Regions from separate parts of the Homo sapiens genome. Here region 2 is linked to region 1. A link means that fine-mapping ties the variant in region 1 to the expression of a gene that starts in the linked region. Tissue or cell type: aorta. Region 1 holds a variant in brackets; the other region holds the start of a gene. All regions are shown on one strand. Distances are from middle to middle.

The links. PIP is the estimated chance that this variant, and not a neighbour inherited with it, causes the effect. A credible set is the group of variants that fine-mapping cannot tell apart.
Region 2: SLC16A4 starts here. The variant in region 1 is the best candidate, but not a certain one, in a credible set for the expression of SLC16A4 in aorta (GTEx, PIP 0.69).

Annotation. Positions count from the first base shown.
Region 1 is chr1:110,321,386-110,325,628 of GRCh38, reverse strand. All of the region lies in intron 1 of RBM15-AS1 (RBM15 antisense RNA 1), which reads left to right. Among named protein-coding and RNA genes, the nearest start is that of RBM15-AS1, 16 kb to the left of the region's middle. The variant T/G (reference allele first, on the strand shown) is at 2,617.
Region 2 is chr1:110,389,026-110,393,268 of GRCh38, reverse strand. It overlaps SLC16A4 (solute carrier family 16 member 4), which reads left to right and starts at 2,243. Exons shown (of 9, transcript NM_004696.3): 1 at 2,243-2,404; 2 at 3,914-4,032. The coding sequence starts at 3,946.

The DNA of each region.
Region 1 (4,243 bases):
TCTGCAAATGTTTGTATATATGTAGCATGAGTAAAAGCAGTATTGCCATGAAATTTTTAAATTGTAAGTTCCAGGCAGGGCATGGTGGCTGACACCTCAAATCCCAGCACTTTGGGAGGCTGAGGCGGGTGGATTGCTTGAGGTCAAGAGTTCGAGACCAGCCTGGGCAATATAGCGAAAACCCGTCTCTACAAAAAACACAAAAGTTTGCCACGCATGGTGGTGGGCACCTGTAGTCCCAGCTACTCGGGAAGCTGAGGCAGGAGAATCACTTGAGCTCAGGAGGCAGAGGTTGCAGTGAGCCAAGATCACGTCACTGCATTCCAGCCTGGGTGACAGAGCGAAACTCTGTTTCAAAAAAAAAATAAAATTGTGATTTCCTTTAATAAATCAACTAATTAATCATTATTAATCATGTTTTATGTGCCTAATAGTTAAAATACAGGGAGAAAATCATGATATGATTCCTACCCAGAATTTGCTTATATGGGGACAAAAACCAGGTACACTTAAAAATTAGTCAATGAATAATTAAAATATAAATATTTATAAGTTAAGCCTTCAAAATATCTTGTATGCGATAAATACATAGAATTTTATCTGTCAAAAAAAAAAAAGTTGTCAAGTATAAAAATTTAGTGAAAGTAGACCAGCACAGACTGGGAAAACCAGGCCAGTTATATGTGTTCATTGTAACATTCCAGACAGTACAGAATGCACAGTATAGAATTCTGATTACATTCCAAGCAATGTTTTATGAGGGGTGCTGACTCTAAGTGTCCTTAGTGTGTAACCTTGGGCATGGCACCTAATCCCTCTGTAAACTGGAGTTGTTGTGAGTAAATAAGAGAGTAGGTAACTGTAAGAATGTCAGGAATTGCTATGGGCAGTTGTGAGATGATGCTTAAACTCTAAAGACCCCAGAGGCTTGGGGACAGGATGAAAGACTTGTATTTGTGATGCTAATAATTAGTATAATTGGGTATAGAATGAGTTGACTCTTGTTTGAGATGTTTTTCAGAAATATAGGAATTTTTGCATATGGTTGAGGGTGATGATAACTTCTATAATCCCTCCCAGCTTTGAAATTCCCAGGTACATAAATCAAACTTGCAGTCATGAAGAGTAAATGGTAGGCCCCAAAGTGCATGGTTACAGGTGGGTGTTAGGCTGGAAAGAGAGTCCTGGGGCTCTTTTTAGATCCTAATAATAGATGTTCCAGAGAACATCTCTAATTTTAAGACATGTTTCTGCACAATGCTTTGCTTGAATGAATTGAGGTAACAGCAGACCACTTCTTTCCCCATTCCCAATCCTTTAGGTACAGAGGGGAGATTTCTGGAGAAGTGAATGGTTATCTATGAGTTATTACAAAGCCAGCTCTGTGTGGGTTCAACTGCTTTGTAGAAGAGGGATTGATCTAGACACATGAATTGATTTTTTTCAGCATCTCTTCCACCACCGTCATCTTAGGCTAAGTTACCACCATCCTGAACCACTTCAATAGCTTTTTAAACAGCTCACCTAGATTCACTCTGGCTCACCTCTGATGAGTTCTCCACTCAGCAATTTGAATGGCTTCCATACTCCTTGGATAAAAACAAATTCCCAACATGGCCTATAGCGCCCTATATGGTGTGGCCTTTTCTATCATTCTAGCCTCATCTTGCTCTCCATTCTTTCACTGGCTTTCTTTCTATCCCATCCTGGGGCAAATGCTCTTCTCCACCCTCATCCCCATGTGAACTCCTACTCATACTTTAGATGTCAGCCCCAGGTCACCTCCTCAGAGCAGCCTTCCCTGACCAGACTGAAGCTCCCTATTATAGGCTCTCATTTGGCCATGTAATGTGACTTTTCTTTATTGCACCTGTCAAAATTACAATTTCATATTTCTTATGATTATTTGATTTACAGTTTAGTGCATTTGATTCATGTGTATCTCCCCCCAAGTCTTCATAATGTCAGGACAGTATGTCTGGTTAGTCACCATTTTATCCAGTCTCAGCACACTGCCAGGCACATAATTGGCACACAAAAATTGTTGCTGAGTGAATGAATGAACGTAATCTATGATAATATTTTCAAATATCCTATAAAATGAAGTTGAGTAAAAAGTCAAATGACTTTAGAAAACACTTTATACCATATTATTTAAGCCTCCATCTCTACCCCCCACACACATATTTTCATATAAAAGACTGTCAAATCCTGCAGTAAAGAAGCCCTCAACTTATTTGACCACAGGATATAAACCAGGACCTACTGGGGGCAGCACTTCTACTTAAGAGAGACAACTTGGATGCCAATGCTAGTGCTGTTTCTGGAAGCAGCAAATGGCAGGAAGTGTTCTAAATGTGTACTAAGAGAAATTTCCCAAGAATTGGCCAGGCACGGTGGCTCATGCCTGTAATCCCAGCACTTTGGGAAGCCAAGGCAGACGAATCACTTGAGGTCAGGAGTTTGAGACCAGCCTGGGTAACACTGTGAAATCCCATCTTTACTAAAAATACAAAAATTAGCCAGGTGTGGTGGTGCACACCTGTAGTCCCAGCTACTTGGAAGGCTGAGGCACAAGAATTGCTTGAATCCAGGAGGTGGAGGTGGAGGTGGCAG[T/G]GAGCCGAGATCACGCCACTGCACTCCAGCCTGGGTGACAGAGTGAGACTCTGTTTAAAAAAAAAAAAAAGAGAGAGAGAGAGAGAAATTTCCCAAGAGTCAAGCTGCCTTGGGAATCCAGGCAAGTCTAGGATTTAAAATGTTTTAAATGGCGCCACAAGCACAAACAAGTTCTACAAATAGAACCTGCACAGTTAGCTGAAGAATGGACTCTACTCAGCACAGTATGTAGCACAGTAAACATTTGTTTGGTGAATGAATGGAGAGAGAAAGTATCTGGGGTGATCACACCTTAGCTGGTGGTCTCATCTTTTCATAGAAAATACAATTTTATTGTTAAACCTAAAATTCAAGTGTGAGTAGATCTTTATGTGTGAGCATTTTAACTGGCTATGTAGTAAAGAGTGAGGCATAATAAACCTGCACCATTCACAGGAACTTACATACCTAGTAACTGGATTTAAAGAAGTACCATGAACACGCTGAAGACAATTAAATACTGATCTTGTTGGTTTTGTGATAAATGTTTTGTCCATCGCTGCTAATGCTAGGACTTAATATTAAATTCAGTTTCATCAAATCCAATGTTTTCTCTTTCTTTTTCACCCCAGTGCTAACCCTCTTTGATCTTTTGGTATCTTTTTGACAGTGTCACAACTCCTCTTTCTTTAAATTCTTTCTGCCCTTGTTTCTGTGACCTGCACTTTCAATTCAATTTCATTTCAACCAATATTTATTGGTCATCTATGCTGTGCCAGACACTGGACTATCATCATTGGTTTATTAACTCATTCCTCCACATTAATTGAGTTCCTACTGGGTGTTGGGCACTGTGCCAGTGACGGATACAAAGATGAACAAGATGTAGTCCCTGACCTTAGAGGCTGCACAGTGTAGTGAAGGAGTCAGCTAACTATATCATGGAGTGGAGAGGCTGTTATAGAAGTGCACACTCAGGGCCTGTGGCCCTCAGAGAAAGAATCGATTACTTCTCTATGGGGGGAGGGGGTACATCGCATAGCACCATGCCTGGCACGTGCTAAATTTTCAACAAATATTTGTCAAAGAAACAAATAGTCTTCCAGGTGGAGATAACAGCACAAACAGGGATCTCTAGGGAGCCCTCACTAGCTAAAGTAGTGGTTTTCAACACAGTGAGGCAGAGTATTACGTTCTCTGGAGGCATGGAAGGGGATGGTGAAGGGAACAATGTGTATCTGAAGGGGGATTGCATATGAAAAATGTATTCCTACTGTTGCAATTTAACTTATAAATTTTACAAACATGCATATTTAAAACCACATTACATAAAATATTAATTTATAGATTCAATTTTATACATTTATATAACAAGAATGAGAATAAAATTATTGTTTTCATAATATGAATTACAGAAATTAAAGCTCAAACTAGGAAAACTGGATAAATATAGGTAAATATAGAAGTTCCAGAGGTTCTGCAGCAAAACCATTGTCTTCTTGAGGATGGTGGTGAGATTTTTATGTTTAACAAAAGGGGGTGTAGAATAATGGGCTCTGAAGGACTGTATTTTGTAGGTTAAGGTTTGTCAACTGGTGTCAGAATCAAAATCAAAATCACCTGGGGATCTTGTTTTTTTTTTTCCATT
Region 2 (4,243 bases), 68 kb before region 1:
ATAGTAGGTCCAATGTGCAGTCATCTTACATTATATATTGTTAATCCTCACAACAACCTTGCAAAATATTAGCTACGCTTTAGAGTTTTAGAAACAGACTCAAAGAGAGTAAATTGCCCAGAGTCTACGGGCTTAAAAACTGACAAAATTGAGATTATCACCAAGCCTGCATTTCTGTTCATGTGCCTCTATGAAACATATGTTTGAAGTTCATCTCTGATTACTTTGCTGTCCTCTTGGCCTCTATGAATGACTTGCTGTTCTGCCGCATTTCAAATCTGACCCCAGGCATTAGCATCAGAGTTCTCTATCAATATAAAGCCTATTATAAGACAAAGATGAATAGGAATATATACACACATATATAATGTATTGTTTACATAGGTTAGGCACAATGATTCACTATTATCATTTAAGGAATGGTAGGAACCCTCCTGAAATCTAACTTCCCAGTTGTATATGTTCCTATATGTATATGTGTGTATATATATATTCCTCTGTGTGTGTGTGTGTAAGAAAAATATATATATAGCCTAGCATCATTTCATCCTGTGATTAGAATTATGGATAGCTGGCTCCTTACAGTGGTTTATGCCTGTAATCCTAATACTTTGGGAGGTCAGGATGGGAGGATCGCTTGAGCCCAGGACATTGCAAACAGCCTGGGCAACAGAGTGAAACCCCCATCTCTTAAAAAAAAAAAAAATTAATTAGCTGAGCATGGTGGTGCATGCCTGTAGTCCCAGCTACTCAGGAGGCTGAGGTAGGAGGATTGCTTGAGCTGGGGAGGTCAAGGCTGCAGTAAACCATGATTATGCCACTGACTCCAGCCTGGGCAATAGAGCAGGCCCTGTCTCAAGAAAAAAAGAAATCATAGATAGCCCTGCTTTAAAAGAGCAACAAGCGTGCCACCAAAAAAATAAATAAATCAGTCTTGTTTACTAAAAAATGTTTTCAGGCTGGCCACGGTGGCTTACGTCTGTAATCCCAGCACTTTGGCAGGCTAAGGCAGGCGGATTGCCTGAGCTCAGGAGTTTGAGACCAGCCCGGGCAACACGGTGAAACCCCGTTTCTACTAAAATACAAAAAATTAGCTGGGCGTGGTGGTATGCGCCTGTAGTACCAGGTACTTGGGAGACTGAGGCAGGAGAATCACTTGAACACGGGAGGCAGAGGTTGCAGTGAACCGAAATTGCACCACTGCACTCCAGCCTGGGCGACAGAGTGAGACTCTGTCTCAAAAAAAAAAAAGTTGTCTAGAGTGTATTCATAATTACAAACAGCTCTCTGAAAAGCATTTATTTGCCTTCTCTCTTTGGGTTTTCTCCTTCTGTTGAATGTTTATTTGATCCTTGCCACCAGCATCATGTAACTGCATAATCCTTCCATGCTTACACTTACAGGGCACCCTCCCAAACCACTAAGCTGTCCTTCTGCAAGCACTTTAATCAAAAAGTATTATAGAGTTTGATTTTAAGAATCTGAGAAGCCTCTTGCTTCTTAAAAAGGAACATGCATAAATATGTGCAGATTTTCCAGATAAAACTAAAAACACATCCTTTCGTCTAAAATATACTCTGGTTTAAAATCTGGAATATTGGTGTGGGAGACGAAAGACAATTTCCCATTTGACTTGTTTGTTTTGTTTTGTTTTATGTGGAGGGTAGAGGGAGGAAATGGGAAGAGAAAGTTGAATTATCCCAGTAATTTTCTAGGGGTCTCAGCCTTAACCATTTCCAAAATATAATAAAAAAAATCTCATTAAAATTACTACGAGCATACGTCTTTTGCAGGAGGTGGTTGAGGTAATCAGATCTCAAAAATGCAATTAAAATGGGGTCTGAAACCCCAAATTAGTAACCAGAATCTTTAGTCAATATACAAAAGGCCACACGAATGGGTTGAGCTTACTGAAGATTTCTGTTTGTGGCCCAGGAAATGCCTCTCTCACCACCCATCCAGGAGTTTTATATTCTCCTGTAAAATAAGCATGTTGTGAGAAGTTCCCTGAGGAAATTTGAAGACAAGTGTATGAGAGCTCTGGAGCCCCATCCCCCTGCCCTGAGCATAGTCGCCAAAAGGACTTTCCACTTAGTTTACTTCATGCTTGCTTTTGAGCCTGCGGCAAAAAATTCTACCTTCTGAGTGACTGTGGGTGGAGGGAGGGCCTGAGATGACATCAAATCACAGTCTTTCCTCCTCCCCTCAGGAAGTAAAGTCCACTAGCAGGAGGGCCTAAATCGTCTGAGCCCTCCTTGGCTCTTACAATGCTCACTTGTTTTCACAATGCAGCAAAATGAAATGCCTTAGAAAAAGAGTAACATTCCAGAAAACGGTGTAATTTATTTTTCTTCCTTAATTGCCCCATCTGTGGAGGATTTCTTTGCTGAACACCACATCAAAGGTAAGATGGGAATGGGACTGTGTGCTGGGTTGGTTTTCTAACAACGACTGGCATCTCTCCCCACCCAGCCTGCTCACCAGATGGCCATTCCGCATACCCTGCCAGCTGACTTTCCTTTCCAGTTAGAAACAGTCAGCCTTCGACCCGACAGGGGAAATAATGAGTACTGTTCCCCCTTCCTCAGAACATTTACATTTTCTTTTTGCTATCATTCTTTATATACACTTGTTTATTTTACGGAACCGATTGGGAGAAGGTAGCATAGTGTCATGTTACTCCTGAATACTTTAGCATGTATCTCCTAAGAATATTCTCTTGTGGAAGAGGTTCCAAGAGGTTAACCTTGGTACAGTATTCTGTATTATACAGTCCATATTCAAATTTCCCCAACTGTCCCCACAAACTGTCTTTTACAACTTTTTTTTCTGATCTAGGATATATTCAATAAGCGGGTATCGCATTTCGTTGTCATGTCTGTTTAGCTCCAAAAATATTTACATTTAGCAAGTGTTTTCTAAGGAGAATTCCTAAACTCAAGGCTCGCCTTCCCTTTCTATTTCTCTTAAGAGTTCACCCGGAGGACCAGCAGGGTGACGCACAGCTTCTCCAAGAAACTGGCTTGCAGACCTGGGGGGAGGGACACTGAGTACAGTTCTAGGAGTGGCCACCCCACAGTCACTGAGATCAGGCTTTCCAGGTAACTAAGTCCTTAGTTGCATCAGGCAGACTTCATCTGTAACTGAGGGGTTAAAAAAAAATTACAAGTGGTTTTATATCATAGGGAAAGAGGTTTTTTTTCTGTTTTGTATTACATTTCAACTTTTATTTTAGATTCAGGGGGTACATGTGTAGGTTTGTTACAAAGGCATATTGTCTGATGCTGAGATTTGGAGTATAATTGAACCCCTCACCCAGATAGTGAGCACAGCATCCAATAGGGAGTTTTTCAACCCTCCTCCCTCCCTATCTTGTAGTCCCCAGTGTCTGTGGTTCCCCTCTTTATGTCCATATGTACCCAATTTTTAGCTCCCACTTATAAGTGAGAACATGCAGTATTTGGTTGTTTCTGCATCAATTTGCTCAAGATAATGGTCCAGCTGCATCCATATTGCTGGAAAGGATATGATTTTGTTCTTTTTTATGGTGGCTGTGTAGTATTCCATGGTGTCTATGTATCACATTTTCTTTATCCAACCCACTGTTGATGAGCACGTAGGTTGATTCCATGTCTTTGCTATTGTGAATAATGCTGCAGTGAACATAAAAGTGCATGTGGCTTTTTGGTAGAACAATTTATCTTCCTTTGGGTATATACCCAGGAATGGGATTACTGGGTCAAATGGTAGTTCAATTTTTGGTTCTTTCAGAAATCTCCAAACTGCGTTGCACAGTGGCTGAACTAATTTGCATTCCCACCAACAATGTATGAACGTTCCCTTTCAGATAAAAAGTTTAAAAGTTTAGATTAGTTTCTGGTCCACTGAATCAACTGTCTTGGATTTATCACAGGGATCTTCTGCATTTAAAATAGAAGAGGCATCATGCTGAAGAGGGAGGGGAAGGTCCAACCTTACACTAAAACCCTGGATGGAGGATGGGGATGGATGATTGTGATTCATTTTTTCCTGGTAAGAATTCACTTTTTTCCCCCTTTCCTATTGCCTAAAAGCAGGCTTTCTGGAGAAAGGCTCAGAGCTGCCTACGAATAGGATCACTTAGGAAATCTTTGGCATCTGAGTGGAGGGGTGGGCAGGAACAAGGCCAGGAGCTGCCAAAAACTGCTAAAGTCAGAGGCCCATGCCGAACCCAGGAGAAAGTTGAAAATGCCCCTAGAGCAAA